Linked DNA regions of Homo sapiens: regions 1, 2, 3, 5 and 6 are each linked to region 4. Evidence: fine-mapped expression QTL. A gene starts in region 4. Each other region holds a variant in brackets. All regions are shown on one strand. Distances are between the middles of the regions.

The links.
Region 1: its variant is fine-mapped to the expression of RGS9 in tibial nerve (GTEx, PIP above 0.99).
Region 2: its variant is fine-mapped to the expression of RGS9 in whole blood (TOPMed, PIP above 0.99).
Region 3: its variant is fine-mapped to the expression of RGS9 in skeletal muscle (FUSION, PIP 0.95).
Region 5: its variant is fine-mapped to the expression of RGS9 in whole blood (INTERVAL, PIP 0.94).
Region 6: its variant is fine-mapped to the expression of RGS9 in whole blood (TOPMed, PIP above 0.99).

What each region holds. Positions count from the first base shown.
Region 1 is chr17:65,165,257-65,170,377 of GRCh38, forward strand. It overlaps RGS9 (regulator of G protein signaling 9), which reads left to right. Exons shown (of 19, transcript NM_003835.4): 8 at 2,944-3,025. Among named protein-coding and RNA genes, the nearest start is that of RGS9, 30 kb to the left of the region's middle. RefSeq lists an enhancer at 1-2,892. The variant T/C (reference allele first, on the strand shown) is at 2,501.
Region 2 is chr17:65,218,186-65,223,306 of GRCh38, forward strand. All of the region lies in intron 17 of RGS9 (regulator of G protein signaling 9), which reads left to right. Among named protein-coding and RNA genes, the nearest start is that of RGS9, 83 kb to the left of the region's middle. The variant G/T (reference allele first, on the strand shown) is at 2,580.
Region 3 is chr17:65,108,991-65,114,111 of GRCh38, forward strand. It overlaps LOC100507002 (a long non-coding RNA gene), which reads left to right. Exons shown (of 3, transcript NR_110801.1): 3 at 1,726-2,105. Among named protein-coding and RNA genes, the nearest start is that of RGS9, 26 kb to the right of the region's middle. The variant CTTTTTTTTTTTTTTTT/C (reference allele first, on the strand shown) is at 2,676.
Region 4 is chr17:65,134,798-65,139,918 of GRCh38, forward strand. RGS9 (regulator of G protein signaling 9) reads left to right here and starts at 2,573. Exons shown (of 19, transcript NM_003835.4): 1 at 2,573-2,800. The coding sequence starts at 2,744. RefSeq lists a silencer at 2,263-2,762.
Region 5 is chr17:65,235,233-65,240,353 of GRCh38, forward strand. No RefSeq gene overlaps it. Among named protein-coding and RNA genes, the nearest start is that of RGS9, 100 kb to the left of the region's middle. The variant T/C (reference allele first, on the strand shown) is at 2,586.
Region 6 is chr17:65,170,983-65,176,103 of GRCh38, forward strand. The region is part of intron 8 of RGS9 (regulator of G protein signaling 9); the gene reads left to right. Among named protein-coding and RNA genes, the nearest start is that of RGS9, 36 kb to the left of the region's middle. RefSeq lists an enhancer at 1,968-2,761. The variant G/A (reference allele first, on the strand shown) is at 2,610.

The sequences.
Region 1 (5,121 bases), 30 kb after region 4:
GCCTTGGACTCAGCTGCGATAAAGCTCTGTGCTGCCCAGGTCCTGGGACATTCCCCTCTTTCATTCTTCCAGGTGCCTTGGAATGAGCGATTCCTAAAAGGCTTGCTCCATTTGAGATGGCTTTTTCCCACTTATTTTATGGCTTAAAGGCTGCCTCTGATTTCAGATTTAGGGTCTCAGCACAAAACGTGGTTGACCATGTAGGTTGGCCCATAAAGTAGTCATTTTGTTATGCTGAGTCCTGTCTTCCAAGTTCCACACTCAGCACCCAGACAGCTACTCAAGATCTCATGTTGCTGTCAAACCTCAAACTTACCTTGTCCATATTCAAATATGTCTTTCCCTCACTCTCCAAACCTCTTCCTCCAGTATCACCCATATCAGTACCTCTACTGCCCCTACCCTGGTTGAACCAAACTCACCGTCACCTGAACCATGGCAACATCCTCCCAACTGGCCTCTCTGCTCCCAATTTCTCCCCATGTTTGAAACACAGATAAGATCACCTCAATCCATCTTCTCTAGCTATCGGGGAGAACATTCACTTCCAATGTTACTTCCTCAAAGAGGCTTTTCTGATTAGCTGTTACTGCACTCAGATCATCCTAAATTTAGTGGCTCAAAACAACAACAATTATTTTATTATGTGTCCTGATTTCTATAGGTTAGGGATTTGGGAAGGTCTTGGCCTATCAATTCTAACTCAGAGTCTCTTGAGTGGTTGCTGTCAGATGGCTGGAGCTGGGGGCCTGGAGCAACTGGGGCTGGCTGGCATTTCCTACTCTCTTCTTGTAGCCTCTCTGTGTGGTCTAGCTTGAGCTACCTCACAGCATGGCGGCATCAGGGAGGGTTGTTAGATTGCTTAGAGGTGTTTGGGGACTTCAAGACCACATATTCCAGTAAGGAGGGTGACTGCTGTCCCACCTTTTATGGCCTGGCCTCAGAAATTAGTGCCATGCCTGACGTCCCATGTTGGTAGAAACCATCACAAAATCCCATCTAGCTTCAAGGGGAGGAGACATAGACACATCTGTCAATGGAAAGAGTGTCAAAGAATTGTAGACATATTTAAAAATCACCACAGAGGCCATCCCTGATGCTGCATGATGGTACTCTGTTTCCTTATGGCAAATAATGCAATTTGCAATTCTGTATTGATTCTTTGACTGTGTATGTGATGTTTAGCTCAAAAGCTACTCAAGGGCAGGGACTATGTTTGGTTCACCAGTAGACTCCCAGTGCTTGGAATATACTGGAAGATCAATGAGTACATGAATGAACGAATGAATGAATGAAAAATTAAGCAAATGCTGTTGCTGAAAAAATCACAAACTAAAGTAATTCCTAGGTTACTAACTCTCTTGCATTCCATTTATCATGACTCTCCTCTAATAACATCTGTTACAGAAAAGCAGAAGAGCAAAGCCGGAAAGGACCCGTGGGGTAAATCAGAGAGTGACTCTATTTACCAGGCTCTCCAGCATTGTGGAAACTGCAATGCCTCAGGCTGGTTGTGGCCCATGCTCCTGAGGTCAGGGGCTAGTTAATGTGGTAGAAAATCCAGTTAGGCTGTCAGGGGGAAGTTTGAAAACAATGTTTATATTTAATTTCCAGAGGAGGCTGACGGAACGCCCAAATGGAATGGCGCTGTTCACCCATCTGGCTCCCTGAGTGTTATGATGTTTTTCACAGTACGTTAACGGGGAGATGAATTCGCCGACTCTGTCTTGCAGAGGGCGTGTGCGTCATCCCACGTTGCCTGGGAAAACAAGCATTAACAAGTGTGAGCGCGGGTCTCCGTGGAAATGGTACAGAAGGGGGCCCACGGCGGGATCATTAGTGTTACTTTGCCCCTGGAGGAAGAAGGCCCTGCGTCATTTCCCATCCAGAGTGGGAAAGGGAGAGAGACTGAGAGATAAAAAGGAAAATAAACAGCCCTTTTTTATTTATTTATTTTTTTTTGAGACGGAGTTTTGCTCTTGTTGCCCAGGCTGGAGTGCAGTGGCGCGATCTCGGCTCACTGCAACCTCTGCCTCCCAGATTCAAACGATTCTCCTGCCTCAGCCTCCTGAGTAGCTGGGATTACAAGTGCTTGCCACCATGCCCGGAACATTTTTATATTTTTGGTAGAGACGGGGTTTCACCATGTTGATCAGGCTGGTCTTGAACTCCTGACCTCAAGTGATCTGCCCACCTCAGCCTCCCAAAGTGCTGTGATTACAGGCATGAGCCACTGCGCCGGGCCATAAATAGCCTTTTATAGCAATAAGTTGTGCTCAGAAAAAGCCCCGACGTGGCATGAACTCTTTGCAGTGCCAGAGTAGAAGTTACAGGCACGGAGGAGAGAGGACTCCCCAGGCCAGCATCTTCCTTGTCACCATCCCACAGGGGGTTGCCTGCCTGACCAGACGTTGACTATGTTGTTTGCCCAAACAGGGAAAAGTTAAGAAGCCAGGAGGTCAAATGTCGACCCGGAAGTTCACCCATGCGCGCTGCTCTC[T/C]AATGTTGAAGTTGGTGGAGTTGGTTTGATTTAGGGCTGGTGGCGGCAATATGATCTCAGTGCAGCACTGTCCTGTCCGGGGGAGTTAGACCCTGGCCAGACTCCCAAGTGCAAGTGCCACTTCTGCCAATTGCTAGCAGTGTGACCCTGGTGGGCTGGTGGGGCATTCACCCCCTCTTCATTTCAGTGCCCTGAACTTTGAAGTAAGAAAAGGCCACCGGGAGGATGAAGTGGGATTAAAAGAGTTAATACGTGTCAAAGTGGTTAGAAGGGTGCTAGTACTTAAGTGAGATGTCAGTGCTTGCTGTGTTCATTACTATTACGGTATATGTGAATTACTTGGGCAGGTTGGGAGAGGGGTCTAGGTCATCAGGAATGAGGGGCATCACTAATCAAAAGACACAAAGTCTTCCTGGCCTTACACGTGGCTTTTGGCTTTCCAGGGCTGGAAAGGAGAGGAACAAAGCAGACAGATATGCCCTGGACTGCCAGGAGAAGGCATACTGGCTGGTGCACCGATGCCCTGTGAGTATCCTCCTGCCTGGTGTCCTCTGTCTCTTCCTGTGCCTCCCACCTCCATCCTGTGCTCTCCATACCTGTTGCCAACTCCTCTTTCTCTAGGGCGAGAATTGGATCAGCAGGAGGAGCTGCTCAGTGTTGGGTTAGCATCCAAGTGCCTCTTGGCCAGAAAAGGAAGTTCTCTGCCTGGATGGGGTCTGCTCATGGCCCATCTGTTGGTGTTAGGTAGGGAGGGACCTGAATGAATTTGTCTTTTACGAGGGCTGGGACTTTTTTTTTTTTTTTTTTTTTTGCTAGGATATCATACCTTGGGAAAGGAATATAAGGAGAAAAAATTAGAACGTAGGCCCCAATGGAGGCGCCAATGCAGAAAAATAGAGTCCCGTGAGAATGGAAACTGCTTGGCCAAAGTTCTCCTTGGTGTCTCTAGCTCCCTCACTTTTTCCTCTCCTAGATCCAGTTCCCAGCAGCTGAGATGGGAGAAGGAGAAGGAATACGTCTGTGTTGAGCTTCTCCTTGCTTGGAGCACACTGAATCTCTGGCTTTGGGACTTCAGTGGCCCAGAGGGACAAGCTGTACAGAGCTGGTGTAACTTGCCCCAGCTCATCACTGGGAAATGGTAGCCTCATTCCCCAGCACACAGAAGTGGGGTCTGACTGCTACATACTGGGATTAACTCTGCTACCTCAGTTTCCTCCTGTACAGCTCCCTGTGCTGCCTATGGGTCATGGGAGGTAGGAGATGTGAATGAGATTCTGGAAACCGAAGAGTTAGAAAGAAATGTTCTTCCTCCTCTTCCTTTAGCTTCCTTGCCTGCCAGGTATCAGAAATTCTCAGAAGCAGAAGGAGAACTGAGTGAGGCCTGGTGTCAGAGTTTATGGATTTTTGAGTTTCAAGCCCATCCGATTTTGGCTGTTTTGCTTATATTCTTTATATACTGAAAACAGATTCTCCTAAGGTGTTCCACTCTGTAGCGGCATGGGTTTGGATGCTGTGTTGCTGAGGTTAAGGTGCTGAGGTTGATCCCAAACAGCTTGTTTGATTTTTTCTTTGCTTCAGGGTTTCTCCTCTAGGGAAACCAGTTTACAGATGCCTGACGCAGGTATCTGGGGGCCGGGTGACAGAGCACAGGGTCCCAGAGATAAGCACCCCTCCTGGTTGGTAGCGAAGAAACTCTTTGTATGAGAAGGAGCCTCACATTGCTCGTGTGTTCCAGAAGCACTCTGTGGTGAGGATAAGGAGACATGGCGGATATGCCACATTTGGCAAGACACCTTGGTGCCCAGTGGCACCATACCTGAGGGTAGGTAAAGAACGGCTTCTATATTATGTGCAGAGACTCCTCACTGTGCGAATGCCTATGTGACTACATTCCTTGCAAAGTGACATAGACTAGCTATGCATTAACATGAAAAATTGATCATCCGGGTTCTTCTCAGTTCTTCTGGGGTAAGTTCTCAGCCCCCACCAGGCTAGTGGCTGAGTGGCTCTTCACAGGATGATGCTGAATCACATAAATATGACCATGTGTCTCTATGACCACTGCCTCCCCCCCAGCCCATCTCCACCACCATGACCGTCATCCCACCTCCCACTCCCTCACCTCCTTTATCTCCCTGACCTCTACCACCTCTCTTATTTCCCCCACTTTCTCCACCACCTCCACCACCCTTATTGTCTTCATCACTGTGGTCACTGTCACCGTCACCATCACAGTAGACATGAACTGAGAACTCCCAGTGTGCTGGGCACTGTGCTAAGCCTTCTGCATTCTTTTTTTTTTTTTTTTTTTTTTCTGAGATGGAGCCTTGCTCTGTCACCCAGGCTGGAGTGCAATGGCACGATTTCGGCTCACTGCAACCTCTGCCTCCCAGGTTCAACCAATTCTACTGCCTCAGCCTCCTGAGTAGCTAGGATTACAGGCATGCACCACCATGTCCGGCTAATTTTGGCATTTTTAGTAGAGATGGGGTTTCACCATGTTGGTCAGCCTAGTCTTGAACTCCTGACCTCGTGATCTGCCTGCCTCGGCCTCCCAAAGTGCTGGGATTACAGGCGTGAGCCACCGCGCCTGGCCGCCTTCTGCATTCTTATTGAACCTT
Region 2 (5,121 bases), 83 kb after region 4:
GGTCAGCCAAGCAGCCATTCAGGAAAACTTTGGAATTCCCAGCAACTTTGTCAATGGGAAATGCTGTGGGATGGCCACGGGAAAGAGGGAGGTGTTGTCTTCCAGCAGTCATTGACTACTTTCGATGCAGAACTTTAAGAAACCCGCTTGCTATCAGCTTCCAGTCAGAACAGCACTTGTAAAGGGTTGATCCTTAAACATCGCTAAATGAACACATCTCTGTCTTGTGGTTCCAGGAATTTTAATCCTTGAAGCTAGATGGTATGAGAACAGCTTTTTTTCTGAAGCCAGGCTTGAATGGTAGGGGAAGGAATGTGGACTTTGGGGTTAGGCAGACATAGTTTTGATATTTTAGCTGGGTGGCTTTGACCTTCAACCTGTCTGAAGTTATCATTTCTCTTAGAATGTTATTGATAGTAGAGAGTGTCTGGCTTAGGGTGGATGCTCAGAAATAGCTCTCTCTCTCTTTCCTCCCCCTTTCTTTCTGTCCTCTTCTCTCACTCTCTCTTTCTTGCTCACTCTCTTGCTTCTTGTAATCTGCCAAGGCTGGGATCCAGAGTTCCAGCTTCTGTGAATAGAGGGGTCAGGCTCTGATAACAGTTTTCCTCTATCTGTTATGACCACTCAACATTCAACAGAGATATTCAGCACCTGTTACATGCCCAGCATCCTGCTAAGTGCTTGGGATCACCAGTGAGCAAGAGAGACACCCTTGCGGCATTTGCTGTTCAACAGGAGAGACAATTAAACCAAATGGTGTGATATTATAGGGAAGCCACATAATGTTTTGGGAAGGGTTGGCAAGGACTGCTAGCCTGGTGAAGGCAGTGGAGACTTGGGGAGATCAGCAGAGGCTAAAGCAGAGGGGTGGGCAGGGCCAGGCAGGGCAGTTCGTTGGTGATCAGGACCAGTGGCCAACCGGGACCATCCATCCTGGAAAGCTCTATGCAGCTCCTAGGGACTCAGGGCTGTGTGCATTTGTGTGGCTTCACCATGATCTCAACTCCAGGTATCAGCTCTTTTCCACCTTGCACCTCCCTCTCCCCAACATCAGTGTATGCCAGTGCTCTGCTTTCCAACCCTGGAGTCCACCAGGAAATTCTCATGTTTGGTAGTGAAGGGACTGCAGGTTCTGAGGGCTTGCAAGCATCTGTGGCTGCTGCTATTGTTCCAGCAGGTGGCAGCTTCTCCTGCTAATGTTTAAACTATGTGTCCCACAGGGCCCGTTGAAATCCCAAATAGCATAAAAAATAAACATTTATTTGGACAATATTAACGATATATTTAAATCACTATGAAAATCTCTATTATGCCGTGTCCTTAGACACCTTTGAATTCCTTAATGTTATATTTTAAACAACTTAACAAACCCCTCTATCCATGGGGTGCATAGCTTGTGCTAGGATATAAGTTATTCTGTAAGTACAAGGATTTCCTTTATAGAGTTCCATTTTCCAACTTGACTTTTAGAGAAAAGGCTGCTTTCATTGTGAATATTAAGTAAAAATATAAGGGCCAGGGACAAAATATGAGTAAAGACCTAAGACAATTCTTGGCCTATTATAAGCCCTCAACGAACACTAGCTGCTATCATCATCATCACCACCATCATCATTGTCACCACCTTCATCGCCATCACTATCACCATTATCACCATCACCACCATCACCATCACTATCACCATCATACCATCATCACCATCATCATCATCACTATCATCATCACCATCACCACCATATCATTATTATTATCATCACCGCCATCCTCACCATCACCATCACCATTAATACACAATCATCATCATCATCACTATCATCATCACCATCAACATCACCACCACTACCATCATCACCATCATCACCATATCATTATTATTATCATCACCACCATCCTCACCATCACCATCACCATTAATACACCATCATCACCATCATCACCTAGTAGCTTCAGTCTTAGAGTAAGCTTGTGCTTTCTTCTAGCTGTTGGTGTTGTCCAATATAGTAAATCATTATTCTTTATTTAAGGCATTTCCTGAGAGATATTTAAAACATTGTCATCTCAAACCATCTATCTTCTCTGTTCTTTGAGAATTTTGCAGTGCGGTCCTCCAGCTCTCCAGAGAACGTTAGGATATATTTGAGGGGAGGAGGGGGAGAAGTTGATGTCATGTCCTCTGTCTGCAGCTTCTAGGAGAGGACTGACCAGCAACAGTGTAGTGACTGGTCAATCCTGTAGTCTGGAGTTTCATGGCTGAAGTAAGGGTCGTTGCTAACTGAGAAGGTCTTGTGCTAGACTGTGTCAAATGGGATGACCAGTATGGGGTCATGCCATGTGTTCACCCATGGCAGAGTTTTCCCCATGGGGCTAACTTTGCACATTTGCTTGGGGGCGGTGGGGAAGGGGAGAGTGGGAAGGCACTGGAAGAGGGGACTTTGCACACTGCATGCTGCACCTAAATGTGGCCCTCTGCTCACCTTTCTGCTCCCAGGAAGTGGGAGTTCAGGTGGCCCCAAGGTCTCTTTCAAATTCTCAACCACATTCCGAGGACAGAAAATGAATTTCATCTCTATGCACTACCT[G/T]CTTTGCCATTCATTAAAATGCCTGTGATTGTGTTCTCATGTTAACATACCTGTTTCATTTCATGCTCCTTTACTCCCTTCTCTTGGTTCCCTTGTACAATAAAACAGCAGCATGAAACAAAACAATGCTAAGCTCTCCTTCACTGTGTCTCTGTGGTGTCACATTTCTTTGCCATGTGTCATGCATGCCACTGCTTTGCTGCCTCACACCAATGGTAGGTGGGGCATGGGCTGGAGGGGCTGGGTCTCCAAGCAGAGCCCCAGGCTCCATGGGAGGGACCAAGGTGGGGAATTGTGGGAACGGGTGGAAAAGACATCTGCTTAGATTGTCCAGGACCAGTAAAGCTAATGGTCATTTGCCCAGAAGAAAGGACCATCTCAGGCCAGGTAAGTGGCCATCTTCCTCGCCTGTCTGTCATTCATCCCAGAAAAGAGAAGATGCTAGGGGAGGAGTGGAGCCAGAGATGGACCGAGAGAGGTAGGAGGGTGGGAGGAGGGCACAGAGTTGGGGGAGGGCATATAGAGAGGCTGATCTGGTCACAAACTTTGAGTTTTGTCAAGTTGCATCATATCCATGAACCTCAGTTGTCTTATCTGTATAGTGGGATGATAGAAGTTTATCACAAATTCTGAGGAAGTGGAATGGAAGTTAATTCTGTATCTCTCTTGACAAAGCCGAGTTCCTAGTTTTGGTATTTTTGGATGGCAATGTGAATCAGCAAGGAAAGCAAGGCCCTTTGGGTCACACAGACCTGGCCTCAGGTTCTCATTTAGTCACTGCTTCAGTTTTCTATTGCTGCATAACAATGACCACAAGCACCAGCCAGGTATGAGCTCAGTTTTCCAGGAGACATTTGGCTGATGTCTTGTTCAAGGGGCTGTAAGGGAATTCCATAAACTAGGGAACTTATCAACAACAAACACTTCCCGCGGTTCTGAAGGCTGGGATGTCCACGATGGAGGCCCCAACAGATTCGGGGTCTGGTGGAGTCCCACTTTGTGGTTCATAGATGGAGTCTCTTCACTGTGTCTTCCCACGGTGGAAGGGCCAACCTAGTGCCCTGGGGTCTATTTCATAAGGATACTGATCCTTTTCACAAGGGCTCTGCCCTCATGACTAATCACCTCCCAAAGACCCCGCTTCCTAATACTATCACCTGCAAGGGGAAGGCCTTCAACATATACATTTTGTGGAGGACACAAATCTTAGACAGCGCAGCTGGGTTCTCAGCTCAGGGTCTCACATTCAAGGTGTCAGCCAGGCTGACGGGGTTCTCATCTGGATGCTTCTAAGAAGAATCTGCTTCCAAGCTCATTTGGGTTGCTGGCAGGATTCAGTTCCTCGTTTAAGACTCAGGTCACTGTCTTCTTGCTGGCCATCAGCTGGGAGCTGCTCTCAGCAGCTGGGGGCCACCTGCATTCCTTGAGATGTGCCCCCTCCATCTTCAAAGCCAGCCATGGAGACCTTCTCCCCAGTTGAATCCTTGCCAAGCTTCCGATCTCTCTGCCTTCTGCCTCTGGCCTCTAGACTCAGATGGAAAGGGCTCCTGTGACCAGCTGGAGCTCACCCAGACACTCCCCCTTTTTAAAAGTCAGCTATGCCTCATCACATAGCCTGACTGGGAGTGACTACCCCATCACATTTATGGTTCACGTGTACACTCAAGGACAGGGGTGGGAATCCTACATGCCACAGTCACTGTGATTCTACATGCCACAGTCACTGACTAGTCATGAGAGCTGGTAAAGGGTAATGAGCCCCTGTGGGCCTCAATGTTCTGTTCTCTAAAATGGGGTGGTTATAGATAAGCAAAGTACCTAGCATGTAGTAGATACTTGATACATCTACGAGCCACCCTTTTCCACCTAACAGTTGTCTCCCAAGCCCCTAATCAAGGCCCAGCTTTCCCTGCTGTACATTCTTTGCAGAATGTGTCCTAAGTAGAGTTGCACCTCCCTATAGAAGGGAAGGGGTTAGAAGCTTAGTGCAGAGTCCCTTAAGCTTACAGGGCAGAATAATCTCAGATGTCAGCTAGAAATGCTTTCCTTCAGTCGCACCCCCCTGATATTCTCCTTCAGTGGGGCTGTGGTGGGGCCAGGTTCTGCCTTTGTACTAAGCACCCTGAGTGATTCTGATGTGGCCGATCTGTAGACCACACCGAGGCATCCCGCGAGCGATGACTGCGCCGACTCCGAGTCAGCCAGTTGGGTTTCAAAGTCTGAGCCCACTGTTCCTGGCAGGGTGTCCCTGGAGGAATGGCTGGACTTCTCTTAGTGTCCTCATCTGTAAAATGGGGATAATAACAGTTGCCTCACTGGGTGGCTCTGTGGAGCATGCAATAATCCACAATAGTGGATTTGCAATTACAGTAATAATTGCAATTATAATAGTTATTGCAAATGCAATAATTCATGATTATTGAGTAAAGTGCTCAGTCCAGGGCCTCACATTTGCTGTGTTCTCACTGTGAATTAATGATGTGATTGTTATTACTATAATAACCCCATGGCCCTGGGCGTGGGCCTGGCTTTTGCTCTGCCA
Region 3 (5,121 bases), 26 kb before region 4:
GGAATGACCTTCATTCTTACTGTAGGTCTCCTGTATACCCTGATATTTCCTGTCTCCATTCCTTTGCTTCTGTTGTACCTTCATCCTGGGATGCCTCTCCTCACCCCAGAGCTTGAGGCTGTTATTTCCAGTTGGCTGCTACACATTTCTGTGTATATGTTCCAGAGCACGGCACAAACAAGTTTTTCTCTTTCAAAACAGGCTGCTTTCTTTTGTGTTTCCTGTTTTAAATACTGACTACCACCATTGGCTTGGCAGAGAGGTAGGAAATCTTGGAATCATATTCTCTTGCCTTCACCAAATTGTATACATTATCAACTAAGTTTCAAACACACAAACTTTTGGGAGTCACCTTCAAACCACAGGACCATCCTATGATTGCTGTCCCTTTTGAGCTCCTGTGCAATTAGGATTGCAGTGTCTAAGTACAAGAGACTCATCTATAGTGCTTCTAGTGACCATATTCTCTTACTTTTCCTCATTGCCTCTGCCTGAACTGTGCTCTCTCCTGCATGATTATTTCCTCTGATACAGAAAGGTTTACTCCTCCTTTTTCTCTACTTGGCCGTACCATGGGTTCCCTTCCAAGTTCACTTCCTCTAGGAAGTATTTCTTGATTATTTGTCTTAGTCCATTTTCTGTTGCTCTAACAGAATACCCGAGACTGGGCAATTTACAAAGAAAAGAAGCTTATTTGGCTCACGATTATGGAGGCTGCGAAGTCCAAGGGCATGGCTACAACTGCATACCCTCCTTTTTGCATCTATAATTTTGCACATCTAAAACCATCTATAATTTTGCAAAACAAGGCAAACTCTGCTGCTTCTCCATGAGAGCTTCCATTTGTCTATGAATGACATCGAAGACCTATTGTGTCCTGGATTTATTTGCTCTCCCTTGGCATGCCATGCAGTTTTACCCATTCATGCCTTTGCACGTGCTTGTTCCTCAGCCTGGAATGCTCCTTTTCTCTGGGGCAGAAGCAACAACTTCTTGCCAAATAGCCCATGTTCTCTGAGTTAGAATTACTGGGCCATGAGCAGAAGTGTTGTGTGGGTTTTCAGGCTGAAGTCTTGAAGGGTGAGTACCAATTCTCCATGTTTTTCTCTCTTCCCCTGCACAGTGATGGAGCACATGTAATGGAATGAGAAACCATAAATGGTAGCAGCCTAGAGAGTTGAGTCAAGACATCAAGGGAGGGCCCTGGACACTGCCCAACTTGACTTAGCATTTTCTTAAGAGAGATAAACCCTTGTTGGGTTAAATCTGTGTTACCACAGCATAATCTAAATTATCCTGAGTAATACATTCTCATTTTCTGCCAGTTACAAATCTTTAAGTATCAGCTTAAATCCTCTTTCTTTAAAAGCCTTCCAGAACCAACCCACCCCTAGCCAGAATTGATGTCTTTTCTTTGTGCTTTCACAGCCTGTGTAACTTATGTCTATTTGACACTTAATGCCTAGTATTATGGTTGGTCATGTAGAGTTAGTGACAGAATGAGTAAGAGTATGAATTCCAAAGCCAGACTGACTGGTTCACATATCAGCTCTGTCATTTACCAGCAGTGGGAATTTCGATGAGTTACTTAGACTTCCAGAACTTGGGTTCATATTTGTCCCTCCAGAACCTACCAGAGTGTCCGACATAGTAATTATATTACATATGTCAATAATTATGTTAAATAATACCTGTTTACCGGCCTCCTTCTTTTTTGTCTTGCAGGTTGAAATATCAGTAAAAAACATGCAGACCCAAAGATGGGGACCAAAATCCAAAGCCAGAGGGTCCTGGAAATCAGAGGGTCTTACAACATAACAGGCAGTACAGGCCATGGCTCAGGCTAGGCGTGGAACAGACTGCAGTTCTCTTCTACAAATCAATCTAGACTGGACAGACAGAACTCCAAGGGAGGAAAGAAAAATGAATCTGATGTTACTTCTTGAAACCACATTTTCTGAAGTCACCATTTTTATGTATCTATCAACTCATCATTTTTATGTATATATCAATATGATTTTATGATCTTATTTTTTCCTACTAATGTGATGAATTACCTTGATTGATTTTAGAATATTAAATCACTTTTGTATTCCTGGAATAAACCCTAGATGGATGCTTGATTTTTTCTAATTCCTTAGCAAAAATGCTAATATTTTATTTAGGATTTTGCATCTATATTCACAAGTGAGGATTTTTTTCCTCTCCTGACACCAACCAATTCTCCAACACAAACTGAGTGTCCTACAATTCAATTTAATTCTGACACTACCCAGAGTTAGCATTAGCCTCCACAGATTTAAGGCCTCAGCCCTACAAGACTGTCCCAATCAGACTCCAGTTGCAAGTCCTGGGCCACCCATACTTCTGGGCAACTGGTTACAAATTGGGGGTTCTTATGACCACCTCCCACAGGCTTGACAATTTGCTAGAATGATTAGTGGAAAGCAAGAAAGTGCTTAACTTAATATTACTGGTTTATTACAAAGGATACAATTCAGGAAAAGCCAAATGGAAGTGATGCATGGAGCAAGGCAAGGGAGAATGAGCACAGAGCTTTCCTACCCTCTCCAGGCACACCACTCTCCCAGCACCTTGATGTGTTCACCAACCTGGAAGCTCTCTGAACCCCATCATTTAGAGGTTTTAATGGAAGTTTCATTACATAGGCATGA[CTTTTTTTTTTTTTTTT/C]TTTTTTTTTTTTTTGAGACGGAGTCTCGCTCTGTCGCCCAGGCTGGAGTGCAGTGGCACCATCTCGGCTCACTGCAACCTCCACCCCCCAGGTTCAAGCAATTCTCCTGCCTCAGCCTCCCAAGTAGTTGGGACTACAGGTGGACACCACCATGCCCAGCTAATTTTTGTATCTTTAGTAGAGACGGGGTTTCACCATGTTGGCCAGGCTGGTCTTGAACTCCTGACCTCAGGTGATCCGCCTGCCTTGGCTTCCCAAAGTGCTGGGATTATAGGCATGAGCCCTACATAGCAATGACTGATTGAATCTTTGAACACTGGTGATTACTTCAATCTCCAGCCCCTTGTCCCTCTCCCCTCCCCAGAAGTCAGTGGGTGGGGCTAAAAGTTCCAACCCTCTAATCATGCCTAGTTCTCCTTTTTTTTTTTTTAGTTGTTTATTTTTCTTGGCATGCAGAATAAGAGCTATTGTCTAGGTCTTTCTGGTGACCTCTTCATCCTGAACTACCTAGAAGCCTCCAGCCACTAGTCATTTCATTAGTATACAAAAGACACTCTTGCCATTGTGGAGATTTCAGGAGTTTCGGGAGCCATGTGCCAGGAACCAGGGACAAAACCCAAATATTTATTTTTTCTCATACCACAATGATTGACATTGGTCTGTAATTTTTTCTGCTTATAATATCCTAGTCCAGTTTTTCTATTAAGGTTATGGCCACATAAAAAGAGTTGGGAACTATACTCTGTTTTGCTATTCTTTGGTAGAGTTTGTCCAAGTTTATGCAAGATTGGTATTATTCTTTTTTTTTTAGAGACAGGTTCTCACTCTGTCACCCAGACTGGAGTAGCAGTGATGCCATCACAGCTCATTCACTATAACCTTGAACTCCTGGGCTCAAGCAATCCTCCCACCTAAGCCTCCTAAGTACCTGGGACTACAGGTGCACGCTGCCATGCCCTGCTAATTTTTAAATTTTTGGTAGAGGCGGTGCCTTACTGTATTGTCCAGGCTGGTCTTGAACTCCTAGACTCAAGTGATTCTCCTACCTCAGCCTCCCAAAGTGCTGGGTGTATAGGTGTGAGCCACCACACACAGCCCATGGTATTATTCTTTAAATATTTGGAAGAATTAACTGATGAAGCAAGCCATCTGGGGCTTGGAATTCTTTGTGAGAAGTTCTTGAATAGATTCCATTTATTTATGAGATATTGGCTATTCAGATTTTACTTTTTTATGTGGGCTTTGGAAAGTTGTATTTTTCAGGGGGTTTGTCTATTTTATCCAAGTTGTCAATATTTTGGTGTAAAGACAATAATATTCTCTTATCTTTGTTATATTTGTGGGATCTGTATTGATATTCCTTTCTAATATTGAAAATTTGTCTTTTTTGTTTCTGTTGATCAGTATTGTTTGGAGTCTATCAATATAAATAATATTTTCAAATAACCAAATTTTGATTTCGTTGATTTTTCTCCATTGTATATGTGTTTTCTATTTCTTTTCTTTCTTTCTTTTTTTTTTTTTTTGAGACGGAGCCTCGCTCTGCCGCCCAGGCTGGAGTGCAGTGACACGACCTTGGCTTACCGCAAGCTCCACCTCTCGGGTTCACGCCATTCTCCAGCCTCAGCCTCCTGAGTAGCTGGGACTATAGGCGCTCGCCACTACGCCCGGCTAATTTTTTTGTATTTTTAGTAGAGACGGGGTTTCACCACATTAGCCAGGATGGTCTCGATCTCCTGACCTCGTGATCTGCCCGCCTCGGCGTCCCAAAGTGCTGGGATTATAGGCGTGAGCCACCGCGCCAGGCAGATTTGTTTTCTATTTCACTGATTTATAATCTTTATTATTTACTTCTATTTTCCTTAGATATAACTTACTGTTCTTTTTGTTCTTAAACTAAAAAAATAAATCATTGACTTTCACCCTGTCCATTTTTCGAATATACACATTTTTAAGGTTATAAATAACTCTCTAGTCCCTACATTAGCTGCATCCTATGAGTTTTTAGAAGTTACGTCTTTTATGGGGTCACATTCAGTTCAAAATATTTGCTAATATCTGTCTAGATTTCTTCTTTAATCTATGAGTTATTTAGAAATATATTTTTTATTTCCAGGCCGTGGAGATTATCTTTTTATTATTGAGTTCTGACTTAATTTTATTCTGGTCAAACAACATTCTCTGAATGATTTCAATGTTTTGAAATTTGTTGAGGCTTTCTTTATTGCCCATCATATGATCAATTTTGATACGTTTCATGTACACTTAAAAAGTAAATTCATGCATGCCTGTAATCCCAGCTACTTGGGAGGCTGAGGCAGGAGAATTGCTTGAACCTGGGAGGCGGAGGTTGCAGTGAGCCGAGATTGCACCATTGCACTCCAGCCTGGGCAACAACAGCAAAACTCCATCTTAAAAAATAAATAAAT
Region 4 (5,121 bases):
CTCTGCTCACCTTTCATTTCTCCTTCCTCATAACTTCAGCTTGCATTTGGTCTCAGCTTCCTGTGGCCCTGACTTTATCTGACTCAAGTTGGCATTTGTGAAGGTAATAATCTAACAAGCTCCTCTCCGTTTTTCAGATCCACATCATGGTCCTATCATGTGGGGAACTGGCCTCTGGTCCAATGAGCAAAGATGGGTCCCACAAAATGTAGTTGCTTGGAGAGCAGGGCCTGACAGAAGGGGTGGGGAGGAGAGTGGCAGGCACTGAGGCCTCTCCTATTCTATTAATGAGCAAAGTGCCTTTTATTTTTGCCTCTCTTTGCTCCTGAATAATTTTTCTCATCCTTCATTTTAGGAAAGCCACTTATCTTCTTGATGCTTAGGGTTTCTAGAGACAAGGGATGTTGAAGCTGGAAGGAACTTCATAGCTCATCTTGGTCAGATCCCAGCATGTGCTCTGTATAACACTAGGCTCAAAAGATGCTTCATGAGAAAAAAAATCAAGATATTCCAGCATTTTCTTTGGATTTAAACTCACACCAGGCTCAAAAGATGCTTCATGAGAAAAAAAATCAAGATATTCCAGCATTTTCTTTGGATCTCAGCTCACACCAGGAGCATACTTCTCAGTGGTTCAATTTGCTTGGCAGGATCTCTGGTCTTCTGCTTGGATGGATCTCTGCAGGGTCCAGCGTCCTCTAAATTGGAGGCTCTGAATCAGGGATTCCTGAAAAGGCACAAGAGAGGCCCAAGCATGAACCTCTTGAAATTGTTTGCAAACTTCAGTCAGTGTTGTGTACATGTGCATGTGTGTGTGTTCCTGAGTGTCCATAGCTTTCATCAGATTCTTACAGGTAAATATCACCCGAGAGAATGGATAAGAACCACTGCTTTTTTTTTTTTTTGAGACAGAGTCTCACTCTGTCACCCAGGCTGGAATGCAGTGGCTCAGTCTTGGCTCACTGCAGCCTCTGGGTTCAAGTGATTCTTGTGCCTCAGCCTCCTGAGTAGCTGGGATTACAGGTTGCTCCACCATGCTGATTGATTTCTGTATTTTTAATAGAGATAGGGTTTTGCCATGTTGGCCAGGCTGGTCTTGAACTCCTGACTTCAAGTGATTCACCCGCTTGGGCCTCCCAAAGTGCTGGAATTATAGGCGTGAGCCATCACACCCAGCCAAGAACCACTGCTTTAAAGGGACATTGGTTGACTGTGCCTTCCTAAGGTAAAGGCCTTCTTGTTTTCTTCCAACTTAAACATTTTATCTGCTACACTCAATAACCATCGAGTATGTTTAAGAGAAAGTGCTTTATATAACAAAGCAGAAAGGCTCTTGATAATAACTTAGAGGCTTCATCCTTGCATTTTTCTCAAGATGAAAACGCTAACATAATGAGCTGTCAAGGTAGGTTCATCAATTGTAACAAATGGGCCACTCCAGTGGAGGATGTTGATCATGGGGGACGCTGTGCGTGCGTGGGGAGAGGGGATATATGACGTGTCCCTATACCTTCCGCTCAATTGTGCTGTGAACCTAAAACTGCTCTAAGAAATAAAGTCTATTAAAACAAGCAAACCAGCCAGCTGCAGTGGCTCACTCCTGTAATTCCAGCACTTTGGGAGGCCGAGGTGGGTAGATCGATTGAGCCCAGGAGTTTGTGAAACTCCCTCTCCACAAACAATTTTTGTAAAAATTAGCGGGGTGTGGTGGCACGTGCCTGTAGCCCCAGCTACTGGGGAGGCTGAGGTGGGAGGATTGTTTGAGCCTGGGAGGTTGTAGCTGCAATGAGCCATGATTACGCCACTGCACTCCAGCCTGGGTGACAGAGCAAGACCCTGTCTCAAAAAAAAAGTTAAACAACAACAAACCCAACAACCAACTAACCGAAACACTAAGAATCAGAGAAGTAAAATATAATTCGCTTCATCCAGACAGCTAGCCCGGTGAGGACTACAACCTTCCTCTCTTCCTTCTTCACTTCTTTGCTCTCTCTTTTTAAACCCACATCTTAGCAATTCCTCTGCTATTGGGTCATTAAATCGCCACCTCTAATTTTTTTTTCTAAGCATTTATTGAGGGCCAAGCACTGTGTTACACATCTCCTCATTAAAATGGTATAGCAACCTTTTCTGGTCGATATTATGATCCCATTTTTCAATTTTTACTTTTGAGTGAAGGACATTGATTCTTAGAGATTGTAAGGAACTTGCCCAAGGCTGCCGGCTGGTTAGTGGCAGAGCTGGGATGGGAAAGTCCGTATTTTCCACCGCGCTGTATTAGTGAGGGCTCTTTGTGTCACTTCTGTGCATAACTCCGCCCCAAGTTAAAAGGCTCGCTGCTCTCGACAGGTCCTCCTCCTCCTCCCGCTAGGTCCTCCTCCTCCTCCCGCCAGGTCCTCCTCCTCCTTCTCCTCCCGGGGCCCTGCCCTGCGGGTCTCACCTGCTGCTCCGCGGGGTCCCGGCGGGGGCCGGATAGCGCCCCCTGGCGGCAGGTGGGCGCCCGCGCAGCGCATGCTAATGAGCCCGCGGCGCCGCTCGCGGATTGGCTGGCGCGGATTCCAGCTGCTTTCCAAGTCAGCGGCGCCTAGTGAGAGTCAGGGGGGCCCGGCCCGCGCCCTCCCCGCCCAGCCGCCTCCCCGTCGACGCCCAGGGCTGGGGCGAGCCAGGCTGCCTTTCGAACTTGGGGGGCTTCTCCTCTTGTCTCCCACTGGTGCTCTGGCTGTGAATCCATCCAGGGGCCAGGATGACAATCCGACACCAAGGCCAGCAGTACAGGCCGAGGATGGCATTTCTCCAAAAGGTAACCCTGGCCCCTCACCTGGACCCTGGGAGGAGGGCGGGGGACCGCATCTGCGAAGCGTCCGAGGACAAGAGGGGCAGGAGTGGAGAGCACCCCTTTGGGTCGATTTGTGCTGCTCGATTTTATTAAGTGACTTCTTTGCTGTGTGTGTCGATATTGATGGCTATAATAATTAGGTTTTCGTGTGCCCTGCCTGTAGTGGAGAATCTGAAGCCAGCGCTGATGGTCTGCGGGAGGTGAAAACAACCTGTTACTCGGGAGAGGCAGGTTCAGTTCAGGCTGTGGCAGATTTGAGACAGCCTGCTGATATTGTTGTAAGACGACCAGATGTGACATTGCCATTTTTGCCTTTTTTTTCTGATCCCAAACTGCACTATTTTAAAGTGTGTGTGTGTGTACACATAGACCATGAAAACGGGGTGATTTGTAGGATAAAGGGCCACCCCATTTACAATGCCCTGAGAGCCCTCATTTGAGTGTGTCTATCTGTGCATCTCCTGCTGTCTGCGCTGGCGGCAGAAGTCCCAACCTTTTCGCTTCCCTTGCGAATGCTTTCCCAGACAAAGTGACCGGGCACAGGGTGTGCACACAGGATGGACATGTGGGAGGTGGAATGCACCTGTGGGGTGATGTGTTTGGGGACAAAGTGGTTCATTTAGTTCTGAGCTTCTGGTATAATCACTGTCCGATGAGATCTACAGAGGATTAGGTCCCGGGTCACATCTTTGTCCTTCCTCCCACCCGTAGCCACTTTTCACAGCGTAGTGTCCATCTTCTTAGGCTTATCTTGTTGAGTAGAATTAGTTGAATGTTTTGTGACAAGCTGAGCTCTCCCTGAGCCCCTGGAGCTCAGCAAATTTGTATAGTCAGTGACCGCTGTCCTGATTTGCCCAGGACTTTCAATGCTAAAACCTGGACAGTCCTGGGGACCCCGAGACGGTCGCATTTGGTCCACCTGTTTCAAGATGCTCGTGCTCATCTTCCGGGTAGCAGAGGTGTGGGTATCATCTGTAAAGCAGACAGGCTGAATGTTGTCTCACTCAGAAAGAACCCTGAGAGCCTGTATTGCAGATACCAGTTACTAAAAGCAGAAGAAACTGCCTAAGTCGGCTATCTCAAAGCCACACATCATCTTCCAGGATTTATCCTAGGACTGTCTCCTCCCAGGCAGGACAGCTCTGGCTTGGGGGCTCAGAGGGTAATTGTCAAGAGATAAATTCAGTTTGTTTATTGAATCTCTGGCATTCTTTTCCATCATGACTCTTCTCTGGTAGATTCTCCTCTCCTTACCTTGGTCTTCTGACTAGTGTCTTGGTCTCTAGTTTCTCTCCTCCACCCCAGGCTTCCCTCCTCCTCCCCAGCCACCCCTCCTCCACCCCAGCATCCCCTCCTCCACCCCAGCATCCCCTCCTCCACCCAAACTCTCCCTCCTCCACCTTAGTCTCCCTTCCTCCACCCTAACCTCTCCCTCCTCCATTCCAGCTCCCCTCCTCCACCCCAGCTCTCCCCCCTCCACCCCACCTTTCCCTCCTCCACCCCAGGTCCTCTTCCTCCACCCTGTCTTCCCCTTCCTCTACCCCATCCTCCTCCTCCTCCCCAGCCTTCTCCTCCTCCATCCTAACTTACCTCTCCTCTACCCTAACCTCCCCCTCCTGCATCCCAGCTCCCCATCTTCCACCCCGGTCTCCCCTCCTCCATGACAGCTTTCCTACACACACTGTTTTTTTCCCCCAAATCAATGGTGACCTCCTTGACCTGAAACGCTCCACTGGCTTCCCACATTCCCAGCATAAAGTCCAACCTTCCCCTGAGCAGCCTGGTTACCCAGGATTCCGCTCCCACCATCTTCCTGGCTTTGCCTCCTGCCTGCCTTCCACACCTGCCCTCTGGGAAACAACAAAGCAGCCACAGGCACCCCTGGGCTCCTGCCTCAAACACTTCCTTCCTTTTTAGGAACCCGGTGCCCTTTCATGCCTCAGGGTCCGTCTGCTGGGAAAGTCCTTTCTCCCCCTCTCGCTTGCCAAGCTCCACTTCTCTTCCCATGCCCAGCTCAGTCACCCCTCGGCTGTGAAGGCTGGTTCTCCTAATGCCCCTGGGCAGGACAGCTCCCTTCTCTGTGCACTACAGACCTTGCCACACCTCCAGCATTGCTCTTTCCCTAGACCTTGTGCTGGCAAGGGCCCTGTCTATGTATCCTCTATATCTATGTATGTATTGGTCATGTCACAGAGCTCCTTGGAGCAGCAGACAGAATAAAGGTCTGCAGAACAGGTCTCAAGAGCCCATGCCAGGCGATCCTTAATGAAGAACCAGCTACATTC
Region 5 (5,121 bases), 100 kb after region 4:
ATATTGTTCAACCTAAAAAGGAAGGATATTCTGACACATGCCACAACATGGAAGAACCTTGAAGATGTTATGCTAAGTGAAATAAGCCAGTAATAAAAGGACAAATACTGTATGATTCTGTTGGAGGTGTTCAATCTCGAGCAACTCCATCTTGAATAGAGGCTGGGTAAAATATGTCTGAGACATACTGGGCTGCACCCATGAGGTGAAGGCATTCTTAGTCACAGGATGAGATAGGAGATCAGCACAAGATACAAGTCATAAAGACCTTGCTGATAAAACAGCCTGCTGTAAAGAAGCCAGCCAAATCCTACCAAAACCAAGATGGTGACGAAAGTGACCTCTGGTCACCTTCACTGCTCATTATGTGGTAATTATAATGCATTAGTATGCTAAAAGACACTCCCACCAGTGCCATGACAGTTTACAAATGCCATGGCATTGTCAGGAAGTTACCCTATATGGCCTAAAAGGGGGAGGAACCCTCAGTTCCGGGAACTGCCCATGCCTTTCCCAGAGAACTCATAAATAATTAAACCCCTCTTTAGCATATAAATCAAGAAATAACTATAAGTATCCTAGTCCAGCAGCCCAAGCTGCTGCTCTGCCTATGGAGTAGCCATTCCTTATTCTTTTGCTTTCTTAATAAACTTGCTTTCACTTTCCTCTGTGGACTTGCCCTGAATTCTTTCTTGCTCAAGATCCAAGAACCCTCTTTTGGGGTCTGGATCAGGACCCCTTTCTGGTAACAATTCTACTTATATAAGATACCTAGAGTAGTCAAATTCACAGAGACAGAAAGTAGAATGGTAGTTGCCAGGGGCTGGGATAGGGATGGTGGGACTGGGGAATCAGTGTTTAATGGGCACACAGTTTCAGTTCAGGAAGACAAAAACAATTTTGGAAACGGATGGTGGTGATGGTTGCACAACAATGTACTTAATACCACTGAACTGTACACTTAAAGATGGTTAAAATCATAAATTTGATGGTATGAATATCTTAACACAATAAACAAAACTAAAGTCATTCTTATCAGAAGACTACAAAAATAAGCTACTGGCTGGATTTAGCTCAAGGTCAAAGTCTGTTAAACTTTGTGCCATATTATTATTAATTTCATTATGTTTTTAAACAAAATAACTCATTAGCGGTGTTATTATTGTGTATTATAGTCAATTCTTTTTTAGCATCAGCTACAAGTTTACCCAAATTTGTGCTCATCACTCCTCTTTGGATACCACTTCTTTTTCCTGGTCCAGTTTTCTTTGTACTGAAGTGCATCCTTTAGTGATTCTCTCACTGATGGCCTTGAGAGAAAAGTCTATTTTTTTGTTTTAAAAATGTCTTTATTTTATCCTCAACACTATTTTACCCTATTATTATTTTAATCATTTACTATTAAATAATCATTTAGGTGAATTGAAAAAGATAGGTTGAGAGTAATTTCTCCTTGGGAATTCAGATAGTATTTCATCATCTTTTGTCCTGTCTTGTTGCTGATGAGAGGTTCAATTACTGTTGCTTGTTGTGGGAAGCCAGGAACCCCAAATGGAGGGACCGGCTGAAGCCATGGTGGAAGAACATAAATTGTGAAGATTTCATGGACATTTATTAGATCCCCAAATTAGTACTTTTATAATTTCTTATGCCTGTCTTTACTGTAATCTCTGAACATAAATTGGGAAGATTTCATGGACACTTATCACTTCCCCAATCAATACCCTTGTGATTTCCTATGCCTGTCTTTACTTTAATCTCTTAATCCTGTCATCTTGTAAGCTGAGGAGGATGTATGTCACCTCAGGACCCTGTGATGATTGTATTAACTGCACAAATTGTAGAGCATGTGTGTTTGAACAATGTGAAACCTGGGCACCTTGAAAACAGAACCGGATAACAGCAATGTTCAGGGAACAAGAGAGATAACCTTAAACTCTGACCGCTGGTGAGCTGGGTGGAACAGAGCCATATTTCTCTTCTTTCAAAAGCAAATGGGAGAAATATCGCTGAATTCTTTTTCTCAGCAAGAAACATCCCTGAGAAAGAGAATGCGTCCCTGAGGGTGGGCCTCTAAAATGGCCCCCTTGGGTGTGGCCGTCTTTTATGGTCAAGCTGTAGGGATGAAATAAGCCCCAGTCTCCCATAGCACTCCCAGGCTTATTAGGACGAGGAAATTCCTGCCTAATAAATTTTTGGTCAGACCGGTTGTCTGCTCTCAAACCCTGTCTCCTGATGAGATGTTACCTATGACAATGTGTGCCCAAAACTTCATTAACAATTTTAATTTCCTCCTGGTCCTGTGGTCCTGTGATCTCGCACTGCCTCCATTTGCCTTGTGATATTCTATTACCTTGTGAAGCACGTGATCTCTGTGACCCACACCCTATTAGTACACTCCCTCCCCTTTGAAAATCACTAATAAAAACTTGCTGGTTTTGTGGCTTGTGGGGCATCAGGAATCTACTGACATGTGATGTCTCCCCTGGACGCCCAGCTTTAAAATTTCTCTCTTTTGTACTCTGTCCCTTTATTTCTCAACCCGGCCGACGCTTAGGGAAAATAGAAAAGAACCTACGTGACTA[T/C]TGGGGGCTGATTCCCTGATAGTTGCTTAATAGATTTTCTTCTCTATTTTGCCTCTAAGTACTGGTCTTTGTCTTGAGTGTTCTGCAGTTTCCCTATAGCATGTCTAGGTACAGAGGTGTTTGTGTTTATCCTTCTGGGGGTGATGCTTCTTCCATCTGAGGACTCATATCTTGTTTCTACTCCGAAAATTCTCATTTATTGTCGCTGGATAATGCTTCCTCCTCCTCTCCATTTTCTTTGCTCTCTCTCTTTTGGCAGCTCCTACTGCATGTTTGTTATACCTTAGGGAGAAGTGTCTCTTTTCTCGAGTCCCCTTTTCCTGCCCTGGGCAGCCCTTCAGGAATTTCACCTGATGGAGGGGTCTTAGGTCTGGTTTTCCAAGCCTTTGGACCACAGGCCATTTCCTGTCACTCTTCCCTGGGGCCAAAGTAGTTGTTCTCTTCATTCAGTATTAATTCCAAGTTTTCTGATAGGAGGGAGTTCATGTTAGCTCAGTTGTCCTATTGTTAGAGCTGGGTGTCCACCAAGGACTTTCTTTTCCACAACAACATAGCTGCTGCATATGTGTCATATATTGTTATACACATATATTTCATATACTTAAATGAATATATTTCATATAAATTCATATGTATATTTTATTTATATATACACACTCTGCTCTAAGTTATCAAATTATAGTATTTCCTTCTCCATTGTAGCTCCATTTTAACAGGGACCTCTGGCTTAAGAAAATGCATCTCCAAACTTGGAATTGTAGGCACCACAACAAGCTGTAACTTGGGGACAGGGAGATTCACACTTCTTTGGGGATGCTTTATGAGGCTGGCTCTGGCTTTGGCCCTGCTGTGAAGTGCCTCTTTGATTTCCATCCTAAACACACAAATGTGTCCACACCATCTACCCTCATCATTCCATCCATCTGTCAATTCCTCTATCCATCCATCCGTCCATCCATCCATTCATTTATCCATCCATCCATTTATCCATTCATCCATCCATCCATTCATCCATCCACCCCTCCATCCACTCCTCCACCCATCCACCCATCTATCTGTCCGTCTATCTCATAAGATCCCCTTGGACCCACCAATGTCATATGAGGGTTATCTAAAGCCGAAAACATCTGAACAAACAGCAGCCAAAGCAGGGAAAAAAAGACCCAAAATACCTTATCTAAACTTTTTTCTTTTTTTTTTTTGATGACTTAATAAAAGTCTCCTGAAAATATAGCTACCATAAATACTCTCTCCAGGAGGTTTACAGACAGAAAGGAGATGGACCACTCACACTTGGATAAGAAATTATATAAACAAAAAAAATCAAAACTTTCCATGCTTTCTGCTTGTTTCTCATTAGCTCCCCATCATTTGCTCTCCTGGAAAGTCTTAAACCCCCTTCTTATTAAGATGATGTATAAATCCTTACCTCTCACTATTCAGAGAGATAGATTTTTGGGAACTCTTAGGTATGCAAATAAACTTTGTCTTTTCCCAACCTGTTTTTTTGTCAGTTAATTTGCAGGCCCCCAACCACTGAACCTAAGTTGGTAGAGGGAAACATTTTTCTTCCCCTCACACCATAGCCATCCATCTATGCACTCCTCTAAGTTTCATGGAGGGTCCACTAGGCATTTGGTATGCTATCGTGAATAAAATTAGGCCTTGATCTCAATAATGCATAGGTTAGATGGGGAGCATACTTTTAAACTAAGAATTACAATACACTGTGTTAGGAGTGGCTGCAAAACTTGACAGCTGAGGGTACACACTCTGGTGTCACACTGCTTCCGGTCAGATCCAGGTTCTACCCTTTCCTAGCCAAGTGGCCTTGAGCATTTCACTAAAGCTCTCCAAACCTCAGTTCTCTCATCCATAAACTTGACATCAGAATAACACAGCCTCCTTGGGGGTCAGGGTGTGAGGATCACCAGCTAACTTATGTAAACAGCTCAGATCAGTGGCTGGGACCTGGTGAATGCTTGATGAATATTTCCTCCAAGGTAGTGTTGAAGCAAAGAGGAACCTTGAGAGAGTCTTGCTGGCCCCAGAATGTGGCTCTGTGTGTGTGTATTGGGCTAGTGTGTAGAAAGCATTCGTTCCTTTGATGAACATGTAGCAGAAAAGGTCAGAAACATAAGAAAATAATCACAGAACACTTACATTTGATAAATGAAAAATAACATGTTAAAATATGATCCCATATAAAATGAGAAGGCACTGAATGAAGGAGACAACTACTTCAGTAAGGAGCTGAAATAAAGTATTTTCTGGGATGATCGTGTCCTTGGAAGACTAGGAGTCAGTGTTCAGGGACAAAGAAAGAGCAGTGCCTATTTCAAGCTGTAGGGAAATCTGGGCACCTATTCAGGAACTGTTATGGCTGGCTCTGTGTCTCCACCCAAATCTCATGTTGGATTGTAATTTCCAATGTCAGGGGAGGGACCTGATGGGAGGTGATTGGATCATGGTGGTGGATTTTTCCCTTGCTGTTCTTGTGATAGTGAGTGAGCTCTCACAACATCTGGTTGTTTAA
Region 6 (5,121 bases), 36 kb after region 4:
CGGAGCTCACAGGCTGCCAGACTGTCTCCAGGAGACCCAAACAAACCGTCAGTTCAATGGGAAAAAAGCCAGCCAAGGCAAACAAAGCACTTGGCGCCGTGGAGTGTCGCGGCCACTCCGTGTCAGACTGTAACCAACAGTTGTAGAGTGAGACGTGGCCTGCTGTTACTGAACCGACTCATTCACTTGTTCATTTGTCTGTTCATTGATCCATGAAATCTTCGTTGAGCCTTGACTTTGTCCCAGGGAAGGGGTTAGGTGCTGGGTGTGAAATAACAGCCAAGAGTCATTGAGTACTCCTCTGAACCTGTGTTAAGCTCTTGGCACAGATGACCTCATTGACGCCTGATGCTATGATGTAGGGAATATCACCATCCCCGTTATTCAGATGGAGAAATTGAGGCTCATAGAGGTTCAGTAGCCTGCTCAGTTCTGGGAGAGGAAGCCACATCTTTCTGATGGTAAAGCCCGATATTCTGCTTCTGTGCAAGGAGGCCCCACCCGTGGTCCCTCTCTCAGCTCAAGGAGCTCAAAATCCAAATTGCTGGAGCACAGGTGAGTGACACTCTCCCAGAGATAAGACCTAATTGCAGAAGGGGCACAGCGAGAGGGTGATTGATTTAGAAAGGCAGGGAGAAATGTCTGATAGATGGTGTTTCAGGGAGATCATCACTGGCAAAGGCCAAGACCCCACGTGGGTGGTGGTAGTTGAGGGCTCTGACCTGAATTCCTACCCAGAGCCCAAAGGACACCTGTGATTCAGCATCCTGTAATGAAGGAAAACGATGTTTCTCACCTGTTTTTTACTCAAATGGAACCAAGTACAGATCTGAGCACGATGCAAACAACAGTGAGTTTTGTAAATGAACAAAGGGAGAAAGTGCTCCCTTAGACAGGCATGTGGAGGCCTTCCCTGCATCTTTGCTGTGCCATCTGTGACTTCCTGCCTCCCAAGGATGTAGTCTGAGGCTGCTTCCTGGCGGTGGGTGTGCTTATCTGCTTATCAAGCTAAATGACCCTTGTTTCAACCACATATGCAGACACTTGCCAGAGATGTCTGCCCTCCATTTCCCATCGAAGTTAGGCTAAATGTCCAACAATGGAAAATGGCAAAATAAATTGAGGTATATTAACATGATGGAACATTGTGAAGCTATTCAAATAATATTTTCAAAGGCCATTCATTGATCTAGGAAAATGATCTGACATACAATGTGTTTTTTGTTTGTTTGTTGTTTTTTGTTTGTTTTTGAGACAGAGTCTCGCTCTGGGGTGCAGTGGCATGGTCTTGGCTCACTGCAACCTCTGCCTCTTGGGTTCAAGCAATTCTCCTGAATCAGCCTCCTGAGTAGCTGGAATTACAGGCGCCTGCCACCACACCTGGCTAATTTTTGTATTTTTAGTAGAGACGGCGGTTTCACCATGTTGGCCAGGCTGGTCTCGAACTCCTGACTCTACCTTGGCCTCCCAAAGTGCTAGGATTCCAGGCATGAGCCACTGTGGCGGCCTGACACATAATGTTATATTATAAAACCAGGGTGGGTGGAATGCTCCATGTGCCATGGTCCAAAAATAAAAAATAAAAAAAATTAACATATATTTTGTGAATATCTGCTCTATGCCGGGTGCTTACTAGGCATTGGGGATATTTGGATTATGAGCCAAGACAGACATTGCCCGTGACCTCAAGGAGTTTCTTGCAGTCTGGTGGAGAGACAAAGACTAAAATGATTAAACCAATGAATGAGTAACAAGCAGAATGCCATGGCAGCTGGTAGGAGGCAGGGGCTCTGCGTCCGGTTGGGGGTCAGGGAACACAGGACACAGGACGTGGAGAGTGACATTCAAGCCAAGATCCTCTAGGAGCTGACTTTCCTAACACAGCAACATAAAATTGTCTCCCTGTTTCACCTCATCTCTATTTCTTTTTTCTTTCTTTCTTTCTTTCTTTTTTTTTTGAGATGGAGTGTTGCCCTATTGCCCAGGCTGGAGTGCAATGGCGTGATCTCAGCTCACTGCAACCTTCGCCTCCTGGGTTCCAGCGATTCTCCTGCCTCAGCCTGCCGAGTAGCTGGAATTACAGGTGTGCGCCACCTCGCCTGGCTAATTTTTTGTATCTTTAGTAGAGATGGGTTTTCACTGTGTTGGCCAGGCTGGTCTCGAACTCCTGACCTCATGATCTGCCGGCCTCAGGCTTTCAAAGTGCTGGGATTACAGGCATGAGCCACCGCGCCTGGCCTCATCTCTATTTCTTTCCCCTGTCTTATTTTGTTTAGAAAACGAGTTAGTGTTTTACTTAGTATTTGTTTTCTGTTCCATGCACCAGAAGAGTCTGATATTTTTGGGAAGAGAGTGAAGCTGAGAGAAGGAGGGGCAGGGGGACACGGTGGAGTACCACCGAGAAGTGTCCGTCAGCTCCACGCTGGCCTTGCTCTGTATGTGGGTTCCTGGGAACATCGCCTCCTCACGAGCAGTTGTCACGAGTACAGGAGCTCCTTTCCTGACCTGAATGATGATGCATTGAGCAAATTGCCTCTTTGGCTTACACCCAAGGGATGTTGTTTGTGGGGGGCGGGGTCATACCCTGGTGTTCACAGTTCCTCAGGGTG[G/A]AGGAGGGGAGCTTGCATGTCTCTGAAGGCTTCCTGCATGAGGCACCAGGGCAGAAAGTGCCTGCTGCCTCCTTATCTGCGGGCCACACACCGCAGGATGCATCGGCTGCCCTTATTTCCTGGGCGCTGACAGTCAGTTCTGGTTAACTTCATCTGAACACCCTGTTATGTGCCAGAAACTGTGTCAGCAGCACTCTGGTGATGATCATAGTGGGTCAAAGACTTTACACTACCTGATGAATGAAGAAATGGATGAATGAAAGGAGCTTGGGAGTCTCTGAAACCAGCAGAGGCAGAAAGGCAGCCCTCTCACCAGTTTCGAGGGCAGGGAACTGGAAAAGGACCACAGCTTGATTGGGAACAACTGAGACTTAAGGGCTGCTGCCCACAGAGGTGCAAGAGCCGAGGCAGCAGTGGCCAGAGGACTGTGCCTGGCTGTTCTGTAGGGAAGGCATGGAGAGCCAGGTTGGGGCTGGAACTGGACAGGCTGGCAGAATCATGAAGCCCAGTGGGTGGCTGCAGGTCTGAGAGTCTAAGGCCGTCTGGTCTGGGCAGCTGAGGGCATAGAGGACTCTATCTCAGTTATGCAGTGCACTGTTGAGCACTGGGGCAACCAAATTTATATCAGAGCCTGGGGCACATTGGAAGGAAAGAACTAGATAACGAATTCAAGACTTGAGCAGATGACCACACCGAAGTCACCGAGGCAGTGAGCGCCTGTGGAATAGCAGCCAGACACTGGTTGTAGGGCATCATGAGCACAGGCTGTGTGTGAGTGTGAGTGCATGTCAGTATGTCTGGGTGTGCATGTATGTGAGTGAGTGTGTGAATGTATGTGTGCGAGTGTGTGTACATGTGTGCATGTGTGTGAGCATGTATGTCAGTGTGTTGGCGTGTCAAGGTGTGCATGTATGTGAGAATATGTATGTATGTGTGAGAGTGTGTAGATGTGTACATGTAAGTGAGCATGTATGTGAGTGTGAGTGTGCATATGTATATGTGAGTGTGCCTAGGTTTGTGCATGCATGTAAACATATATGTGTCAGTATGCACGTGTGTGAGTGTGTGAATGTGTTATGTGTGAGCATGCATATGTGTGTGCATGTATGTGAGCATGTTTTTGTGTATTCATTCTCATAGTGTTATAAAGAAATACGCAAGACTGGGTAATTTATAAAGGAAAGAGGTTTAATTGACTCACAGTTCTGCATGGCTGGGGAAGTCTCAGGAAACTTACAATCATGGCGGAACGGGAAAAGGCACATCTGACATGGTGGCAGGCGAGAGAGAGCGAGTATGTGAAAGAGGAACTGTCAGACACTTATAAAACCATCAGATCTCATGAGAACTCACTATCATGAGAACAGCATGGGGGACACCACCCCCATAATCCAGTCACCTCCCACCAGGTCTCTCCCTCAATCCCTGGGGATTATGGAGATTACAGTTCAAGATGATATTTGGGTGGGAACACAGAACCAAACCATATTAATGTGTGTGTGTGTGTGTGTGTCAGGACATGTGTGTATGTGAGTGTGTGTGAGTGTGCATATGTACATGTGGGAGTATGTGTAGGTGTGTGCATGTATGTGAGCATGCGTGTGTGAGTGTGCCAGTGTGTCAGGGCATGTATGTATGTGAGCATGTGTGAGTGTGCATATGTATGTATGAGAGTGTGTGGGTGTGTGAGTGTGAGTGTGAGAGTGTGTGAACGTGCCAAAGTGTGTGTATGAAGTCTGCCTTCAGTTATGCAGGGGGATTTCTCCATACCAGATTCAGGGGGCAACTCCTAGAACCCTTTTTGGCAAAGGCACTGACTCTGCTGAGCCCCTGCCATGTGAGGTTAGATCCCATGGTGTTATCCCTTCAAGACACCTGTCTCAACTCTAATTTATCCTTTGTGTGATTAATTGCTGAGTGGCTACCTCCCCCTTGAGACTGGGAGTGCCTCAGTAATGCCTGCTGGGGAGCAGTGGTCTCGGGGCACACTCACCATGGGCTCCCCAGGGCTCAGCACAATGTCCGGCACATAAGAAGTGCCCCATAGATATTTGCTGATCAAGATCCACTTGTAACAACTAGGGTAAGGATGGCCATTCCCTTTCCCTGTCCTCCTCCCCACCCACTTTCTATTGCCTTTTCCTTTCTCTTCCCTGTGTCGTCTTGTCTGCACATATTTGCCTCCATGGTAGCCCGGTGAGCTAGGTTGCTAGATTTAGCAAATAAAATACAGGAAATTTGGTTGAATTTGAATTTCAGATAAACAACAAATAATTTTTATGTAAAATGTATTTTGTATATTTAGTATAAATATATAATAAGCATCAAAATATTGGGACAGAAATTATTTGCCATTTATCTTAAATTAACTGGGCTTCCTACATTTTATCTGGCAGTCTTACATCTGAGCTAAAACCCAGTCTGATCCCATGGATGAGGCTGAATTTGATGGCAAGAAAGCCCAGTTGCTTCCCAACTCTCTGCTTCAGTGTAGCCAACCTGGTTGGTCACA